2 separate regions of the Homo sapiens genome follow, and region 1 is linked to region 2. The links come from fine-mapping of genetic effects on plasma protein levels. Region 2 holds a variant in brackets. A gene starts in the other region. All regions are shown on one strand. Distances are from middle to middle.

Region 1 (5,374 bases), 170 Mb before region 2:
GATACATCACAACAATCTTTGTGGAGCCTTGGGAGCCTCTGGGGACCTGTGAACACGCTAATCTGAAGCAAGTTACTTCTGAGTTGACACCCACAACAGCTCAATGAGGCACTCAGGGAGCCATATTTTGAGTGTACCCTTGTTAGTAGTGGAGAAAAGTGGAAGTCCCTCTTATATTCATCTTTAACATTTGGAGTGCTTAACCTCTCCCAAAGTGAGCTCAGAAGCCATCCCAAAGTGAGCTCAGAGGCCATCCCAAAGTAAATCACTTGGACTTGCACTGTGACTCCAGCTTCGCAGTCCAGACAATCCCTGAGCCTCTCAGGAACTCACAGAGCACAGCTATCTGGGCCTCCTACCTCCATGGGCCCTCACCAGGGGAAGAAGTTCTCCTTCTAGCACATGTGATGTTCAGTGTCTAGGAGGCCCATCAACCCATCAGGCTGCATCTGCCTTTTCCCCTCCCCTCCCCTCCCTTCTCCTTCCCTTCCCTTCCCTCTCCTCCCTTTCCCTTCCCTTCTCTTCTCTTCTTCCCTTCCCTCCCTTTCCCTTCTTCCCATCCCTCCCTTTCCCTTCTTCCCATCCCTCCCTTTCCCTTCTTCCCATCTCTTCTCTTCCCTTCTTCCCTTTTCTTCCCTTCTTCCCTTTTTCCTTTCCCTTCCCTTCCCTCCCCTCCCTTCCATTCCCCTCACCTTCCCTTTCCTTCTCTTCTTCCCTTCTTCCCTTCCTTTCCCTTCCCTTCCCTTCCCTCCCCTCCCCTCCCTTCCCCGCCCCTTTCCTTCCCTTCTCTTCTTCGCTTTTCTTCCCTTCTTCTCTTCCCTTCCCTTCTTCCCTTCTATTCTTTTTTTTCCTTCCCTTCCCCTTCCCCTTTCCCTTTCCTTTCCCTTCTTTCCCTCCCTTCCCTTCCCCTCCCCTTCCCTTCCCTTCCCTTCCCTTCTTCGCTTTTCTTCCCTTCTTCTCTTCCTTTCCCTTCTTCCCTTCTATTCTTTTTTCCTCCTTCCCTTCCCCTTCCCCTTACCCTTTCCCTTCCCTTCCTTTCCCTCCCTTCCCTTCCCCTCCCCTTCCCTTCCCTTCCCTTCTTCGCTTTTCTTCCCTTTTTCTCTTCCTTTCCCTTCTTCCCTTCTATTCTTTTTTTCCTCCTTCCCTTCCCCTTTCCCTTTCCCTTCCCTTCCTTTCCCTCCCTTCCCTTTCCTCCCCTTCCTTCCCCTCCCCTTTCCTTCCCTTCCTCCCTTTTCTTCCTTTCTTCTCTTCCCTTCTGTTCTCTTTCCTTCTTCCCTTTTCTTCCCTTCCCTTTCTTTCTCTTTCTCCCTTCCTTCGTTTACTTTTCTTTCTTTCCTTTTTCTTTCTTTCTTCCTTCCTTTCCTCTTTCTTCTCTCTTTTCTTTTTCTCTGTTTATAGCAACAATACCACACAGCTCAAAGAAAAAAGAATAACATTGTTTTCAAAGTAACAACCTTTTAGGATAAACTCCCCTTTTCCTTATTTTTTAATAAGAAAAAAATTTAAATTTAATTATAAAAAGCATTACCTCTTATTGGAAAAAAGAATTCTGATCCTTGGCCAAGTCCCCTGAGAGGGGAGTGGTAATTTGGCCAATGTGTTTCTCTTTTGCAGCATAATTTAAAAAGTGACATGGTGATCCTGTGTTTGGGCTTGACTCAAATACAACAGAAAAAGAGAAGGAGAAAAGACACAAGCAGAGGGCAGAGGTGGAAGAGGGATTTTGGGGTTGACTGAGAGTGGCTGGTGTGGCTGGTGTCTATCTTCCTTCCCTGGAAAGTTTGCCCAGAGCCTGCAAGTTTCCTCAGGAGACAAGCAATGTTATAATGCGAATAACATCTAACATTTGTTCAACACTTGCTATGGACCATGCATGTTTTATGTCTTTTTTTTTTTGAGGCAGGGCCTCACTCTGTTGCCCAGCCTGGAGTGCAGTGATACAATCACAGCTTACTGCAGATATGACCACCTGTGCTCACACAATCCTCCCACCTCAGCCTCCTGTGTAGCTGGGACCAGGCACGTGCCGCCAGGCCCAGCTAATTTTTTAATTTTTTATAGAGATGGGGTCTTGCTGTGTTGCCCAGGCTGGTCTCAAGCTCCTGGCCTCAAGCAATCCTTCCACCTTGGCCTCCCAAAGTGGGCCACTGCACTCAGCCATGTTTTATAAGCCTTCACATGAATTGTGTTGTTTAATTTTATGTAGCATGACGGAGCCACTCTAGGGAACCCCTGGACTCTGGGTACTTTGTGCTAACTCTGTCTGCTCCCCAGCTCACATCTGCCTCCCTGTCACTAACCTCCTCCTATTTTCCACTCCGCCTAGTCTTCTCGGTCCCAAAGCCTGCATGGTAATTTCTAGCTCTGCTTTTCCATCTCAAGCTCTCAATCTCCAGCTCTCTATTTCATTTCCATCCTCCTGGGGCAATGCTGCTTCAGACCATTCTGCCAGTAATGATTTCCCATTGTCCAACTCTGGAAGCTTCTCATTGGCTCTAGGGCTCTTCTACGAACCACCTCCTCCTATGGGCACCAGCAGCTAAATCACATTTGAAAAATAAAATAATAACAAATAATAACACTGCATATAAAAACATAAGTGGCCAAGACATAGACAAATAACTTTTTTAAGTGCTGTGTCTACAGAGACACAGCTGGGAAGTTTACAAATGGGCCCACCGAAACGTATTGTTTCCTGTTTATGCACTGAGTCCAGAGGTTTGCGTTACTAAATTCTAAGTGAAAAAGAGTTTAAATGAGGCCATGATGTGGGATAACAGCAAATTAAAATCTTGCCCTTTTCCTTGGTTCCTCCCTTTGGTTAGCTCAACTGCAAAGTTAGTGTTGACTTTGTCATCTTCTAAAATTCCACCTCTGTGGGTGCTTGTATTTCTGGAACGTTCACCAAAAATAATAAGTTTGAACTCTCTCCCCTGGTGTTAATTCTGGGTTGTTTGGAACCCAGTTTATCTGAAGGAGTCGGTCTCTGGACTTTCTAGTAAAGGGTGAGCATAGATGTGTGGAAAAGGGGGTGCTGTTCCTTTAAATTCTGCAAGTGAACTTGACTCAGGAAGGCCAGCGGCTCAAGGTCCAGCCCCTGGAAGAGAGAATAGCTACAGATTCTCCATCCTCAGTCTTTGCAAGGCGACAGCTGTGCCAGCCGGGCTCTGGCAGGCTCCTGGCAGCATGGCAGTGAAGCTTGGGACCCTCCTGCTGGCCCTTGCCCTGGGCCTGGCCCAGCCAGCCTCTGCCCGCCGGAAGCTGCTGGTGTTTCTGCTGGATGGTTTTCGCTCAGACTACATCAGTGATGAGGCGCTGGAGTCATTGCCTGGTTTCAAAGAGATTGTGAGCAGGGGAGTAAAAGTGGATTACTTGACTCCAGACTTCCCTAGTCTCTCGTATCCCAATTATTATACCCTAATGACTGGTGAGTACCATGTCCTCTTCTGGGCAGGGAGGGGAGGGCTGGCATCCAGCAGGGAACAGTGAGCTCCTGGCATTGGAGTCTTATTTAAATGCTCTGGATTCTCTAGTCCTTTGGGACATCAAAGGTAGATAAAAAAAATCTGTGTTCTTGGCTGAGAAGACTTTTGTTTTCGTGGCGGTATTGTTTCCCAAAAGTTATCCCAAGGACCTGTTTTGGATTCTCAGTGCGGAGGACAGAGAACTATAGCAGTACATGATATTTGACGATATTAAAAGTGGTCGTTTATTTTAGAAAGAGAAATTCTAATGAGGCTCATATTTTCTAAGTTCAAGTCTGCAAAAGCAACAGGTGTCCGTGCATGTGTCCCAAACTCCTTCTGTCCCTTTTCTCTGTGGTCATGTCATCCTGGCACCCTGTGGGCTTGTTTCTCAGTGTGTTGGACTGTGAAAGTACCTGTGGGGTCCTCAGAGGGGAGTGGTGCTCCCGGATTACTTGGGGAAGGGGGGATGTTTAGGTCATATCCTTCCCTGTGACTTAGCAATGCCACCTTCCCCTTCTTTTGCCTTTTTGGCCAGGTAAAATGATACGGAGAAGAAAAAGCTTGTGTCGTTCAGGTTCCCCATTTGTGATTTGCAGCATCTACAAAAGACCAACCAGCAAAAACTCCACAAAACAAACAAAAACCTCGGCTAACCCAGACTGCCTGGGCTTGGGATAGCTGATTTTCCTAAGGACGGCCTTCATCTGAAATTGCCAGGACTCCAAACGCGACTGCATGAACCTGAGCCTCTATCCGTGCGATAATAGAATGTGCAGCCCTCTCTCTGCTCACAGAGTTGGATTCCCAGTTTCTGGTTTGTTTTTCAGCTATAACCTTTGTAAAGGCAGCGAGAGGCTCTCAGAAAGAATTTAGCAAACTATCCAGGGAGGCTGCTAAGAATGCACTGTTATTGCTGGTTATGCGGGACTCAGCTATGCACTCTGAGCACAGAGAGAGCTCTGCTAATTATGTTAACAGAAAGAAAATGAGATCTCTGATATCTCATGGACCTCCACAGAACACTAAAGCCAAAAGAGTCTAAAACAGACATTTATATCTCTGACTTTGTGCATAGATACTATATACACATGTACGGAAAAATGCCATAAACTGATGCCCCAAACTGAAGGGGAGAGATACTTCGGAGAAATAAAAATGAGGGCATGAGAGAGAGAAAAAAATCAGACTGCACACAAGCAAGGAAGTTATGTATTTGTTTTTTATTTCCCCCAGCAGACAAAAAAACAGTCTCTAAGATAAACAGAATTAACAAAATTCTCTGGCCCTCCCCTGGCATGTGTCTCCCCTTGCAGGGAAGCAGTTTGCAGGCTGCCGGCTCTCACATAGACGTGATTGTGTGGACAGCCGACTCCAGCTCTGTGCAGCGGCTTCACACACACAGCCCACCCCCACTCCAGCTGTCTTTCAGAGCCTTGCCAGGGGACCCAATTCATAAACTGCCACGCCACGTGCAGCTTCTGCAATCTTAGTGGAAAATGAACAAAATCCATCTTAGAAAGGACTCAAGTAAGTAAAAGGACCATTACAGACTCCACAGAGACACTAAGCCAATGACATGGCCTTTTGTTTGTCAGATCCACACTCCTGATATTGGCACAAGGAATAATTTGCACACAGCCTCCGTCATGCTGAGACACACCTTCTTTTCCGGCTGTGGGTGTTTTCCCTTGTGCTGTCCTGAGAGAAGGGCCCCTTCCTTTATGGGCAGCACAGGTCCCGTGAGTGTCTGACAAAGATCTCACCCTTGCTTTCAAACTGAGGCTGGCCCGAGGAAGCCACAGGTCTCCATATGTGTTAAGTCTCTGTATTTTCAGATGGCCAAATGTATTCACTGATGTGGAAGTCTGCTTGGTCTATATGTTTCATAGAAGCTACCCTGCACAAGG
Region 2 (5,374 bases):
TTGGCAATACTTGTGTTGCTACACATCAGCATTGCCAACATTGTGTTACCACACATCATTGTTGAAAGAGGTAATCACTGTCCACATATGCCACTGGGAGAGCACAATTGGAGGCTTATCCCTGGACCCTGCCTTGCGTGCCTCTTCTTGTTGCTGATTTTAGTCTGTGTCCTTTCACTGTAATAATCAAAACTGTAAGCATGACAGCTTTGCTGAGTTCTGTGATCCTTCTAGTGAATTACTAAGCTCAAGGGTGGTCTTAGGGACCCTTTCCCCAACATAAACTTGTATGTGGAGAATGGGCAACAGTCAAGAAAGGCTCAGCAGCAGAGAATGCCCAAGCAGGTCCCAGGGAAATATGGGATGGGACACTACCCCTGGGTTCCACTGGACACTCACTGCTGTTCCTGCCCTACCCTCACCTCTGCCATGGCCTCTCCATTCTGCCACCGCCACAGGAAATTGTCTCTAATAATCCTGCATCTTTGCACTTCTCCCTCAAGACTCAAAATCCTGGGAAGAAGCACCTAATTAGCTAAACCTGGTTGCTCGGGGTTGGGAGAGGATTTGCCTAGTAGAGGGAATCATGCTTCTCACCTGGATGAACACAATGGGAAATCCCTCTATCCCCCAAGTAAGAAGGGTGTTCCATGCTGAGAAGTCAAGAAAGATATTTATCGCAAATGAATCATATGGATTTTTCCATCTCCAGAACTCATCTCTGAAATTAAAGAGTAGAGGAAAACTGCTTGGAAGCAAGTGGGTTTCATGGGTGTGTGGAATCTATGCAGTTGCATGGGGCCCCAGACTCAGAATGACTCTGCCCTTATTTTAATGTTCTGTTACTGTCTTGAAATACTTAATTTTTCAGTAAGAGTCCCACATTTTGATTTGTATTGGGCCCTGCAAATTATGGAGCTTGTCCTGCTGGGAAAGCACCAAGCATCATGCAAATGCAAGGGCTGGCTATAACCTTCAAAATTACTTTCACAGCTGACTCTTTTTTTTTTAATTACTCATTTTGACTTAGACTTAAAGACACTACCATCTGTCCCACTGGTTATACCTCAAAAAAAAAAAACACCCTCTTTGGGCGCCAGTGGCTTTCTAAACACTAGACCCACTGGCCTGCTCTGCCGTTGTCTGCTCCATTTGACTTCGAGCTCTCGGTGCTTCCGCTCCATTTCTCTCTCCCTTTCCCTCCAGCCATGCTCCTCCCTGGATCTTGGCCATTCTACACTGCCCTACTTTGCCCCTATTTCTCCAGCTGCTGTTTCTTTGTCTTCTTCACTGGTTCCATTTGCTATACTTCCCCTCTGCCCTTCAAACCTGGATGTACCCCCAGGGAGAGTTTTCTTCTGTGTCTTTTCTCCTCTCTAGACATGCTGGATTTCTCTTGTGCCTTCAAGCAGTACTTTTCAGCTGAGGCTTCTAAGGTGGCTGTTCTGACCAGCTGTGGCTGCACCACGTGGATATCGCAGCAAGTCCACACCTACTATCATCAGCAGGGCCACATCTATCTACCCCATGGACCTCCTGATTCTACCTATGTGACCATCAGTCTTCCATCTTAATTGGTCTTAACTTCTTTTCTGCCTCCATATTGCTGTCATGTGGTGCCTTCTAGCTGTGTCTCACATGGTGGAAGGGGTGAGCAAGTTCCCTGGGGTCTCTCTTATCAAGGCATTAATCCTGTTTATGGTAGCTCTGCCCCCCACGACCTAATCAGGGCACTAATCCCATTCATGATGGCTCCTAACCCCCAGGGTAATGGTATTAGGAGGTGGAGCCTTTAGGAGGTCCATTACCTTTGGAGCTAGAATTTCAACATGTAGTTTGGAGGGGACACTAACATTCAGACAGTAGCATGACCCCCAGTGCAGATATTGTGAAGCCCCAACAGCCTTCTTGGATGTGGTAGTGACCTTGAGGGTACAACAGAATGAGGAAGCAAAAAAATAGAAACCAAATCCACAATGGCTATGGAGTCATCATTCTGCCCTGAGCAGTCCGCCTCCAGACTCCATTTACATAAGATAAAGATAAACATCGATTTTGTTTAAGCCACTGTTTAGTGTTTGCTTAGAG[G/A]CAAGAAAGCTAATTATAAGCCCTGAATGATACAGATGTGAAATGAGTCCCAAACATTGCAGACAAACTTCAACTGTGATTCTCTTGTCTTTCTACGAACTGAGAGATGAATGAATTTACACAGCTACCAAGAGTGCTGTGGGCACCCTGCAAGAGAATTCAAAAGAGAAGTGGGATTTTGACAAAACAAGTCAGATTCAAGATTGGGGACCACACAGGAGCACTGGGGATCTGCAAATGCTCTGTGAGGTTGTGTTTATAAATCCACTGTGACCCAACTAACATGCACTTTGGGATGCAAAGGGCCTAGTATATAAACAGAAGAACTACTTGCAAGCCACAGGCATTATTCTCAATGTGATTATAAATACAGCCTGGTGAGGCTTGGAGACATTGAGATTATGAGGAGTGTGTGTGTGTCCATGCATGTATATTCTAGAGGTGCCCGGTAAATATGCATTTGACCAGATTCCAAATTGGCAAATGGTAAAATCTGTCTCTGGTCAAAGCCAAGGCAAAAAGTGAATATTATAATCATAGATTGATGTTATGCAATGAAAAAATAAATCTGATATTTTATCCCAAATATATTAATTTAAAATTTGTTATTGTTAAAACAACTTAGTATTCAATGTTACATCTTGAAATTATAGTGTAGGAATCATGTGTCTTCATCATCAGGGGCTGTGTGGCTCCTAAATCACTAATTTGCATGTTTGTTAATACCAAATAGATACCCACTTCCCGCTATTGATAGAGGAAGATCCGTTTGGCCAGCTCTCCTAGGAATGGTAAGGTGTGGTTGATGGTAATGTTGTCAATGAATTATCAGGCTTTCCTCAAACGCCTTTCGTTTTTAGTAAGCAACTAAGGTCATGACTTACTGCCTCCTCACCTCCTTGACAGGAAAATTTGGTTCATGACGCTGATGCAATTTCATGGAAGCAATTTCATAAACTAATGTTTTGAGCACTTGAAGAAGATACTTCCACACAACTTTGATAACTTAGATAAAATAAACTAATTCATTGAAAGAGACTATAAGAACTAACATGGGAGAAATAGATAATCTCAATAGACCTATAGTTATTGAAAAATCAAATGGATAATTAAAATTTAAAAAAAGTAAAGCACTAGAATTTCAGTGGTGAATTCTGCAAAACATTTGAAGAAAAAAATACCAATTCTCCACAACGTCTTCCAGAAAACAGAAGCAGAGGAAATGCTTCTCTAACTCATTTTAAGAGGGCTATATTATCCTACTATCAAAACCAGATAAAAACAGTACAAGAAATAACAACTACAGACCAAATATTTCTCCATGAATATAGATGCAAAAACCCTTAACAAAATATTGGCAAAATCAAAACCATATATACATAAATATATATGTGGTTACAGAAATGCAAGGCTAGTTCAACATTTAAAAATCAGTGGATGTAATTTTTAGCAGATGGAATAAGAAAACCCATATAGTCACATCATGATGGAAATTCTCAAATATTTAGGATTAGAAAAGAACTTCCTTAACACAGTAAAGGTAATATTTTCTTTAAAAATCCTACAGCTAACAGCATACTATGGTAAAAGACTGAATGGTTTCTCTTTAAGATGGAAAATAAGACAAAGACAACTTCTCTTCACTCCTATGTCATACTGGAAGACCTAGCAATGGGACAAGAAAAGGAAAGAAAAGGCATACAGATTGGAAAGGAAGAAAGAAAATACTTCCTGAATATTTTATAAAGTGCCAGGCACAATGGCTCATGCCTGTAATCCCAACACTTTGGGAGGCCGAGGCGGGCAGATCACGTGAGGTCAGGAGTTTGAGACCAGCCTGGCCAACATGGTGAAACCCCATCTCTAATAAAAATACAAAAATTAGCCAGGTGTAGTGGCAGGCACCTATAATCCCAGCTACTCGGGAAGCTGAGGCACAAGAATCCCTTGAACCTGGGAGTCAGAGGTTGCAGTGAGCCGAGATCGCGCTATTGCACTCCAGCCTTGGGCGACAAAGCGAGACTCTGTCACAAAAAAAAGAAAAAGAAAAAAAAAAAATGTGCTCTTAAGATTGTTGCCCTTTCTTGCAGTTTTAAATTTCCTATACTTTTGCATGGACTTGACACTTTATACGATGCTTTGAGACAAATGTGTCCTTAAATTTTGGATCTAGAAATGTGGTAATAAAGCTAGGTAATTGGTTTTCAAGACAGTAAGATCCCACCAAAATTTCTAGTGCATCTCAGTTTTCATTGCATGCACACAGATTTCAGCCTTTCCCTGGAGTAGAAGTATAAGAGGAATGTTTATAATAGCTCAAAGGTGCCAGATATGACATTGAGGTGGGCATTTGGCTATTGAGCCTTCCAAAGGCCAAGGTTAAATGGAACTGTATATCTGGAAAAACACTGAGACCAAAGTCAAACTTCTATGAACCCCTAGTATACGCCTGGCTATTCCCAAGTTCTCTAACCTATGAGAAACCCTTCCTTTAAACAACCAGTGGGCCAGACATGGTGGTTCATGCCTATAACCCCAGCACTTTGGGAGGCCAAGGTGGACGGATCATTTGAGGTCAGGAGTTCGAGACCAGCCTGACCAATATGGTGAAACCCCATCGCTACTAAAAATACAAAAAAATTTAGCTGGGCATGGTAGCGCATGCCTGTAGTCCTAGCTACTTGAGAAGCTGAGGCAGGAGAATTGCTTGAACCTGGGAGGCGGTTCAAGCTGAGTACTCCACTCAGCAGAGGTTGCAGTAAGCCACTGTACTCCAGCCTGGGCGACAGAGCAAGACTCTGTCTCAAAAACAAAACAAAACAAAACAAAACAAAACAAAACAAAACGGAACAAAACAAAACAAAAAAACAACTAGTGTAGGCCCAAGCCCCAGATCATTTATTTGATTAGCAGAAAATACAGAGTTTTAACAGAGTCTCTCCGAGGGGTCCCAGAGGGACACCAACATGTTCCAAAATATGTCTTTCATGTGTATTGTCACCTCAATAACAACCTCCCTTCAGGCCTTGCTCACTCTCTGCAGATGTTCTCTCACTACTTCACAGCAGAAGCTTTCCCATGCCTGGATCCTGCCTCCCTAATCCCCAGACCTCAGTGGACTCAAGACTGGAAGAGTTAATAAAATATCCCTGTAGGCAATATCCTCAGAAGGTAATTAAAAATAGAAAAAGAAAACAAACCACTTAAACAGGACACAAAGTATCATGGCTCCCAGATCCAGAGGCTGAGTCCCGCCTTGAGGGACCAATCCCTCTCAGATGGGCTC

Which allele goes with the higher level. Positions count from the first base shown, and alleles are read on the strand shown. Strength reflects both the effect of a copy and how common the allele is.
For the plasma level of the protein whose gene starts at base 3,133 in region 1, G is the low allele of the variant in region 2 and A is the other (moderate association).

What was found. PIP is the posterior inclusion probability: the model's chance that the variant is causal. Protein levels are from antibody-based Olink assays in UK Biobank. Linkage for the fine-mapping came from a reference panel and not from the study's own genotypes, which makes the PIPs less certain.
Region 1: ENPP6 starts here. The variant in region 2 is fine-mapped to the plasma level of the ENPP6 protein (UK Biobank, PIP 0.91).

Annotation. Positions count from the first base shown.
Region 1 is chr4:184,215,632-184,221,005 of GRCh38, reverse strand. ENPP6 (ectonucleotide pyrophosphatase/phosphodiesterase 6) reads left to right here and starts at 3,133. Exons shown (of 8, transcript NM_153343.4): 1 at 3,133-3,427. The coding sequence starts at 3,187.
Region 2 is chr4:16,130,567-16,135,940 of GRCh38, reverse strand. No RefSeq gene overlaps it. Among named protein-coding and RNA genes, the nearest start is that of PROM1, 49 kb to the right of the region's middle. The variant G/A (reference allele first, on the strand shown) is at 2,089.